Regions from separate parts of the Homo sapiens genome. Here region 2 is linked to region 1. The links come from fine-mapping of genetic effects on gene expression. A gene starts in region 1. The other region holds a variant in brackets. All regions are shown on one strand. Distances are between the middles of the regions.

Region 1 (4,000 bases):
GATTACAGGCATGAGCCACCATGCTGAGCCTTTAAAATTTTTTTTTAACAAATTTATTGAGCCAACGTTCCAGAGGCCACAGCCTGAAATGAAGGTGTTGGCAGAGCTGTGCTCCCTCTGAAAACCAGGTCTCAGGAGCCCTCCTTGCCCCTCCCTGGCTTTTGGCAGTGGCCTGCCGTCCTTGATGTCCTTGGCTTGTCACTGCAGCTCTTCACTCCCTGCCTCCGTGGTCACATGGCATTCTCCCTCTGTGTCCCAGTCTTCATATACCCATTTCCCCACCCCCCCAACCACCTACACAGAACCAGGCAGACATATAACTATCTTACAAGGACACCAGTGATATTGCATTAGGGGCCTACTCTACTCCAGTGTGACCTCATGCTCACTGCTAATATCTATACTAACCCCATTTCAAATAAGATCCTATTGTGGGGTATTGGGGATTAGTACTTCATATCTTTTGGGGGTTAGTGGTGGGGTGGCTGGCCCTAACAGCTCTCTGTCCCCCCAAGGGGTCAGGCTGAGAAGCTGGAGGCGGTCCTGGCTTCCATCCCCCCAGGATCTGGAGGGTTCCCCGCCTTCCCCTGCTCAAAACTCTTGAGAAGACAAAACCCAAACACCTAGGGGTTGTGGAAATGTTCTAAAATGGATTGTGGTAATGGACACACAACTCCAAAAATACTGAAAGCCATTGACTTACGCACCTTAGGTCAGCGAGTTGTATGGTATGTGAATTATATCTCAGTAAAGCTGTTACAAAAGGAGGAAGGGGCAGGGTGCGGTGGCTCATACCTAAAATCCTAACACTTTGGGAGGCCAAGGCAGGAGGATCCCTTGAGCCCAGGAGTTTGATACCAGCCTGGGCAACATAGGGAGATCCTGTCTCTTAACAACAACAACAAAATCAACCGGGCACGGTGGCGTGCACCTGTAGTCCCAGCTACTTGGGTGGCCGAAGTGGAAGAATCCCTTGAGCTCAGGAAGTCGAGGCTGCAGTGAGCTATGATCGTGCCACTGCCCTCCAGCCTGAGCAACAGAGCGAGACCCGTCTCTTTACAAAACAAAAACAAACAAAAATGGGGAGGAGGGAGAAGAAGGAAGAAAGGAAGGGAAAAGGAAAGGAAAGGAAGAAATAGCTCAAACTCCTACCTACGGTTGCCAACCGTCCTGGTTTGCCTGTGACTGTCCTATTTTTAGCACTGAAAGTCCTGCATCCTGGCACTGGGATGGGTCAGTCTGACCTTGTCCTACAGAAGTCTGGCCCCTGCTGCCCCCACCCTCCAGCCTTCTTAAGCTCGGGGCTCCTCCCTTCTCTACCTGGACATGCTGTGTGGCTGCTTCTAGAATCCATTTAGGGATAATGTCAAAAGGCTGCTTCTTCAGAGAGGCCCTCGGGGGTCATCCTCAGTAAAGTCCCCTCCCACCCCTACCTTCTGTGGCACTTGTTGTCACATTAGTTTATTTCCTTTAGGGCAGCATGGATCCTTTCCTATCTCCCCCAGACCTTCGGGTCTGATTCACTCCCTATGTCCCATGTAAGTGGCAGGGGGCTTGGTACCTTCATCAACACGGCCGAGCGAAGGAACCAGCTCAGACCAGCAAGAGTCTGTTTGCACACATACCTCGCACCTTAAATCGGAGACCTCATTTTGTATGGGTGCTGCTGGGGCTGTGCCTTCCAAGCGACAGGACACACAGCAGAAGCAGCTTCTGAAATTCCGAGTGTGTGTCTGTGTTTGCAAGCATTTGAGGGCGTCACTCACCCCATGTGTGTATCAGCATGTTAATTCGATTGTTGGTCCACGAGGGTAAGCGTTGCGCCTCCCGGAAGAGGGTAAGGCTGTGACAAATGCCCCCTGGGGACAGGCTCCTGGCTTGAACCCAGCAGGCTCACTCGTCGTGGCCTTGGATTAGGGATCCCGCTAAGCCTCGGTTTCCTCGTCGGCACCGCAGTCCAGGTCGGAACATTGGGCAGGACTGAATGAAAATTATGTCCAGGTGCCTGCACACAAGAGGTCTCCAGGCCTCCTGAATCCATCAAAAGTTATCCAAGACGGCTGCTGCTGCTGCTGCTGCCTCTAAACCCTGAAGTACAGAAGGCAAGTGGGTCAAGATCCCAGGCCCAGACAGTGGCGGCCCGGTGGCATCGAGTGGGTGCCGTGTATCTTGCAGGCACAGAACCTCCCGGGGAAGATGGAGGGATTATTGCCCTGCGATCCTGCTTCGCACGCAAGCCAGGAAGTGTGTGTCTGAACTCCCATCTGTGAGCGTGTCGTCGAGGTGTGCACCTCCAGCGACTTCGTGCTCGGCAGCGCGGACGCACCTGCCCGTCCTCCCCGCCAGGGACTCAACTTCCTGGGCCTGGGCGAGAACCGACGGCGGGGAGGGGCCAGGTGCGCAGGGGGCGGGGACAGGGCCCGCGGGGCGGGGTCCACGTGGGTGACGCGCGGGGCCACGCCCCCACCTTGGGACACACCCGGAAGCGGCGGCGGCGCCCCTCGGGGAAGATGGCGCCCTCGGGGCTGAAGGCGGTGGTGGGGGAAAGTGAGTGCCTCTCCGGGGCCGGGCTCTGGCGTCCGGTGTGGGACGGGGGTCGGGGACGCACGGGCTCTGGGATCCTGGGTTTCATGGCGGCTGGGAGTTGGGGGCCGGGCTGGGCGTCCGAGCACCTGACCCTCGAGGGGGCGGGCGGGGACGGGTTCCCAGCTGGACGCCCCTGCTCTCCGGTGCCAGAACAGAACAAAATTGGGGGGCCGGACTCCGGGGACCCAAAGGGGACGGGTAGAGTGTGGCGGAGGCTGGGGCCCGGACTCCTGGGCCTCCTAGGGTGCCTGCCGGGGGAGGAGGGCACAGCTGGATGCCCACACTCTAGGATCTCTTAAGCCGGGCAAAGTTCAGGGGCTGGATTCTTGGGGCCTCCTAGGGCTCTGGTCAGCGACCCTAGGTGCTGTGAGCGCTCAGGGGACGTGTCCAGGCCCCACAGGGGTGGTGTAGGGGATGTCTTCCTCCTTGCCCCATTTCCAGGAGCGCCTTGCAGCTGGAGGACGCAGGCGTCCAGGCCTCACCGGCCCCGGTTCTTGGGGGAAGGGTGGAGGGCGCCTCTTCCTCCACCCCGGGGAGTTCCGGCCTCAGCTGCTCCTTCCGCCCTGGCCGTCTTGATAACAGTGGACATGACACAGTGGACGTGGCTGGGCGGGGCCACCCCGTTACTTCTCTCCACTCTCTCCTCTAGGCAGGGCGGTCTGTAGCTCAAACCCCTTTAATTGGGGGAGATTAGAAAAAAGTGATTCCATTTTACAGATGAGGAAACTGAGACCGGAGGTCAGTGGGATAGCCTCAGCTAGGCATGCCTCAGAGCTGGGAACCAGGGGTCCTACATTTTAGACCAGGTTGGGGGGACTGGCTGAAACCCTCACAGCAGGAATACTTGAGGTAGCAGGTGGGGAAGCCGAGAGCCTGGCGCTAGAGGCAGATAGAGCTGTAGATGATCCCGGTTCTCCTCTTTTCATTCACCTAAAACATGTTTATCGAGTGGCACCTTTTGCCCCAGCACTCTGCCACTTAGACACTCAGGATGCGTAGGTGAGTTACATGTTGCCTAAGAATCTGTTTCCCTGTCTGTAAATTGGGGGTGACCCCAGAAGCCAATTTGCAGAACTGGGGGCTAAAAATAAATGATTCCTGTGCCGTGTCTCACACCTGTAATCCCAGCACTTTGGGAGGCCGAGGCAGGAGGACTGCTTGAGGCCAAAAGTTTGAGACCAGCTTGGGCAACATAGCGAGACCCCATCTATACAGAAATAAAAATAAATTAGCTGTGGGTGGTACATGCACCTGTAGTCCCAGCTACTCGGGAGGCTGAGGCAAGAGGATCGCTGGAGCCCAGGAGTTGGAGGCCGCAGTGAGTTATGATCACACCACTGCACTTTAGCCTAGGTGACAGAGTGAGATCCTCCTCTCTTAAAAAAAAAAAAAAAGTAAATGGGAATTAAGATGG
Region 2 (4,520 bases), 78 kb after region 1:
AATAATCACATATTGTATACTCGAAAATTACTCAGAAAGTAGGTTTTTGTTTTTTTGAGACGGAGTCTCACTCTGTCACCGAGGCTGGCGTGAAGTGGTGCGATCTTGGCTCACTGCAACTTCCCCCTCCTGGGTTCAAGTGATTCTCCTGCCTCAGGCCTCCCAAGTAGCTGGGATTACAGGCACCAGCCACTACGCCCAGCTAATTTTTTTGTATTTTTAGTAGAGAAGGGGTTTCACCATGTTGGCCAGGCTGGTCTTGAACTCCTGACCTTGTGACTCGCCCTGGCTTAAGGCAATACATATGTTGTGAATAAGCTTGATTTGGCTAGGCACGGTGGCTCACACCTGTAATCCCAGCACTTTGGGAGGTTGAGGTGGGTGGATCACCTGTGGTTAGGCGTTTGAGACCAGCCTGGCCAACATGGAGAAACCCTGTCTCTACTAAAAATACAAAAATTAGCAGGGTGTGGTGGTATGCGTCTGTAATCCCAGCTACTCGGGAGGCTGAGACAGGACAACTGCCTGAATCCAAGAGGGAGAGGTTGCAGTGAGCCAAGATCACCTCGCTGCACTCCAGCCTGGGTGACAGAGCGAGATTCCATCTTAAAAAAAAAAAAAAGTGATAATAACAATTAGAAGGAATGACTAAGATCTACTATTTAATAGTACAGCAGAGTGACTACAGTCAATAATAATTTAATTGTACATTAAAAAATAACTAGGCCAGGCGCCGTGGCTCACGCCTGTAATTCCAACACTTTTGGAGGCCGAGGTGGGTGGGTCACTTGAGATAAGGAGTTTGAGACCAGCCTGGCCAATATGGTGAAACCCCATCTCTATCAAAAACACGAAAATTAGCCCAGTGTGGTGGTGGGCGCCTGTAATCCCAGCTTCTCAGGAAGCTGGGGAGGGAGAATCGCTTGAACCTGGGAGACAGAGGTTGCAGTGAGCTGAAATTGCACCACTGCACTCCAGCCTGGGCGACACAGCGAGACCCTGTTTCAAACACAGACACACACACACACACACACACCAAAAACAAAACAACAACAAGAAAAAATAAAACAACTAAAAGAGTGTATTAACCGAGCGTGGCTGTGCACACCTGTATTCCCAGCTACCTGGGGGGCTGAGGCAGGAGAATTGCTTGAACCTGCGAGGCGGAGGTTGCAGTGAGCCAAGATTGCACCACTGCACTCCAGCCTGGGTGACAGAGTGAGACTCTGTCTCAAAAAATAAAAATAAAACATAAAAGAATATAATTGGATTGTTTGTAACGCAAAGGATAAATGCTTGAGGGGATGGAGACTGCATTCTACATGATGTGATAATTACACGTTGCATGCCTGTGTCAAAACATCTCATGTACCCCATAAATGTAATCACCTGTATATACCCACAAACATGAAAAACACAAAATACAAAGACACATCACACTGGGAGCAAGCATTTGGAGACAAAATACTATGCACTGTATGATCTAATTTATATGAAACTTCACAAGACAAGTCAAATTCATAGTGATAGCAGATTGGTGATGACCTAGGTCTCTGTCAGGGCTGGTGCTGAGATTGAAGGGCAGGAGGGAATTCTAGGGCTGATGGAAATGTTCTATATCATCAATATCTTGATGGTTGCCCAGCTGTATACCTTTGTTAAAACTCACTGAATTGGCCAGGCGCGGTGGCTCATGCCTGTAATCCCAGCACTTTGGGAGGCTGAGGCGTTTGGATCTTGAGGTCAGGAGTTCGAGACCAGCCTGGCTAACAAAGTGAAACCTGTCTGTACTAAAAATACAAAAATTAGCCAGGCCTGGTGGCGGGTGCCTGTAGTCCCAGCTACTTGGGAGGCTGAGGCAGGAGAATAGCTTGAACCTGGGAGGCAGAGGTTGCAGTGAGCCGAGATTGCACCACTGCACTCCAGCCTGGGCAACAGAGGGAGTCTCCGTCTCAAAAACAAAAACAAAACCAAAAAAAAAAACCTCACTGAATTGTAAACTTGAAATGAGTACATTAAACAATTAAAAAAATTTTTAAATTGAAGTAAAATACCATAACAACAAATTGACCATTTTAACTATTTTAAGCATACAGCTCAGTAGTGTTAAGTATATTCACATTGTTGCACAACCAATCTCTGGAATTGTTTCATCTTATAAAACTGAAAAAAAAAACCAACAAAAACTGAAACTTTACCGATTAAACGACGACTACCCATCGCCGCGTGCCCCAGCCCCTGGCACCCCCCGTTCGACTTTTTGTGTCTATGAGTGAGTTGACTCTGGGGACCTCCTATGAGTGGAATAATGTGGAATCATACCATATTTGTCTTTTTGTG[C/G]CTGGCTGGCTTATTTCACTTAGCATAACTGCCTGTGTCAGAATTTCCTTCCTTTTTTTTTTTTTTTTTTTTTTGAGATGGAGTCTCGCTCTGTCACCCAGGCTGGAGTACAGTGGCACAGTCTCTGCTCACTGCAACCTCCACCTCCCGGGTTCAAGCAATTCTTCTGCCTCAGCCTCCCAAGTAGCTGGGACTACAGGTGTGCACCACCACACCCAGCTAATTTTTGTATTTTTAGTAGAGACGGGGTTTCACCATGTTGGCCAGGCTGGTCTCAAACTCCTGACCTCAAATGATCCACCAGCTCAGCCTCCCAAAATGCTGGGATTACAGGCGTGAGCCACCACGTCTGGCCCACAATTTCCTTCCTTTTTAGGGCTGAATTATATTCTATCGTATGGATGGAGCACATTCCACTTATCCATTGATCTGTTTATGGACACCTAGGTTGCTTCAATCTTTTTTTTTTTTAACGGAGTCTTCCTCTATCACCCAGGCTGGAGTGCAGTGTCGTGATCTTGGCTCACTGCAACCTCCACCTCCTGGGTTCAGGTGATTCTCCTGCCTCAGCCTCCTGAGTAGCTGGGATTACAGGCACGCACCACCACGCCCGGCTAATTTTGTATTTTTAGTAGAGACGGGATTTCCCCATGTTGTCCAGGCCAGTCTCGAACTCCTGACCTCAAGTGATCCGCCTGCCTCGGCCTCCCAAAGTGCTGGGATTACAGGCGAGAGCCACCACATCTGACCTGCTTCAATCTTTTGACTATTGTAAATAATACTGCTATGAACATGAGTGTACAAATATTTCTTTGAGACCCTGCTTTCAGTTCTTTTGGCCACACACCCAGAAATGGAATTCCTGGGCCATATGGCAATTCTATTTATAATTTATTTGAGGAACTGCCAGAAGCTTTTTCCACAGTGGCTGTACCATTTTACATTCCCACCAATAGTGCACAATTTTGTCACATTCTCACCAGTACTTTCATGTTCTGTAATTTTTTTGATGGCAGCCATCCTAATGATTATAATAAATGGGTGCATCTTATTGTATATAAATTACATCATGGCTGGGCATGGTGGCTCACACCTGTAATCCCAACACTTTGGACAACAAGGCAGGTAGATCACCTGAGGTCAGGAGTTGAGACTAGCCTTGCTGACATGGTGAAACCCCATCTCTACTAAAAATGCAAAAATTAGCTGGGCGTGGCAGTGAGCCCCTGTAATCCCAGCTAGTCGGGAGACTGAGGTGGAAGAATTGCTTGAACCCGGGAGGCAGAGGTTGCAGTGAGCCAAGGTCGCACCACTGCACTCCAGCCTAGGTGACAGAGTGAGACCTCATCTCAAAAAAAAAAAAAAAGAAAGAAAAAGAAAAGAAAAGAATATTTATACCTGGGTCAAGTGAAAATTAGACAAAGAGAGACATATGGCCACCCTAGATAAGGTAAGTTACCTGTGTGTATTTTTAGGCAAGGAGAGAGTTACAGTTATATCTTAGGTGGTAACATCTTACGGGTGTTAAAGGTTTATTGCAGGTGTTTCCAGTGGTTTTTCTTGAGTTGAGTTACTTCCATCAAGGTGTACAGGTACTTACAGACCTATTAGGGCATGCTATGAAATAGTCACAAGTGGTTACTGTTGTGATATGGGTGAGCTCCAGCTAAGCTTTTGTATTAGTCAGCTACTGCTGCAGTTAACAAATTATCTCAAATTTAGTGACTTCAGACAATGCAAACTTATTATCTCACTGTTCTGAAGATCAGAAGTCTGACACTGATCCCATTGGACTTATATTAAGATGATGGCAGGGTTGCATCCTTCTGGGGGAGAATTCATTTCCTTGCCTTACATAACTTCTAGAAATGGCTGCTATGGTTTGAAAGTTTGTGTCTTTTCAGAATTCATGTGTTGAAACCTAACCTCCAAGATGACGGTATTAGAAGGTGGAGGCTTTAGGGGGTGACTAGGTCATGAGGGTGGGGCCCTCATGCATGGAATTAGTGCCCTCATCAATCATCAGAGACTTACTTGCCCTTTCTACCATGTGAAGACATGGCAAGAACATGGCCATCTGTGAACCAGGAAAAGAGCCCTCACAAGACAGAGTCTGCCAACATGTTGGTTTTGGACTTCCCAGCCTCCAGAATTGTGAGCCAAAAATGTGTGGTTGTTTA

What was found. PIP is the estimated chance that this variant, and not a neighbour inherited with it, causes the effect.
Region 2: its variant is the best candidate, but not a certain one, in a credible set for the expression of STXBP2 in whole blood (TOPMed, PIP 0.50).

Annotation. Positions count from the first base shown.
Region 1 is chr19:7,634,640-7,638,639 of GRCh38, forward strand. It overlaps STXBP2 (syntaxin binding protein 2), which reads left to right and starts at 2,471. Exons shown (of 19, transcript NM_006949.4): 1 at 2,471-2,547. The coding sequence starts at 2,511. It also overlaps a transcript of PCP2 not described here. RefSeq lists enhancers at 2,017-2,544, 2,545-3,073, 3,074-3,600 and a silencer at 2,289-2,578.
Region 2 is chr19:7,712,627-7,717,146 of GRCh38, forward strand. No RefSeq gene overlaps it. Among named protein-coding and RNA genes, the nearest start is that of FCER2, 13 kb to the left of the region's middle. The variant C/G (reference allele first, on the strand shown) is at 2,341.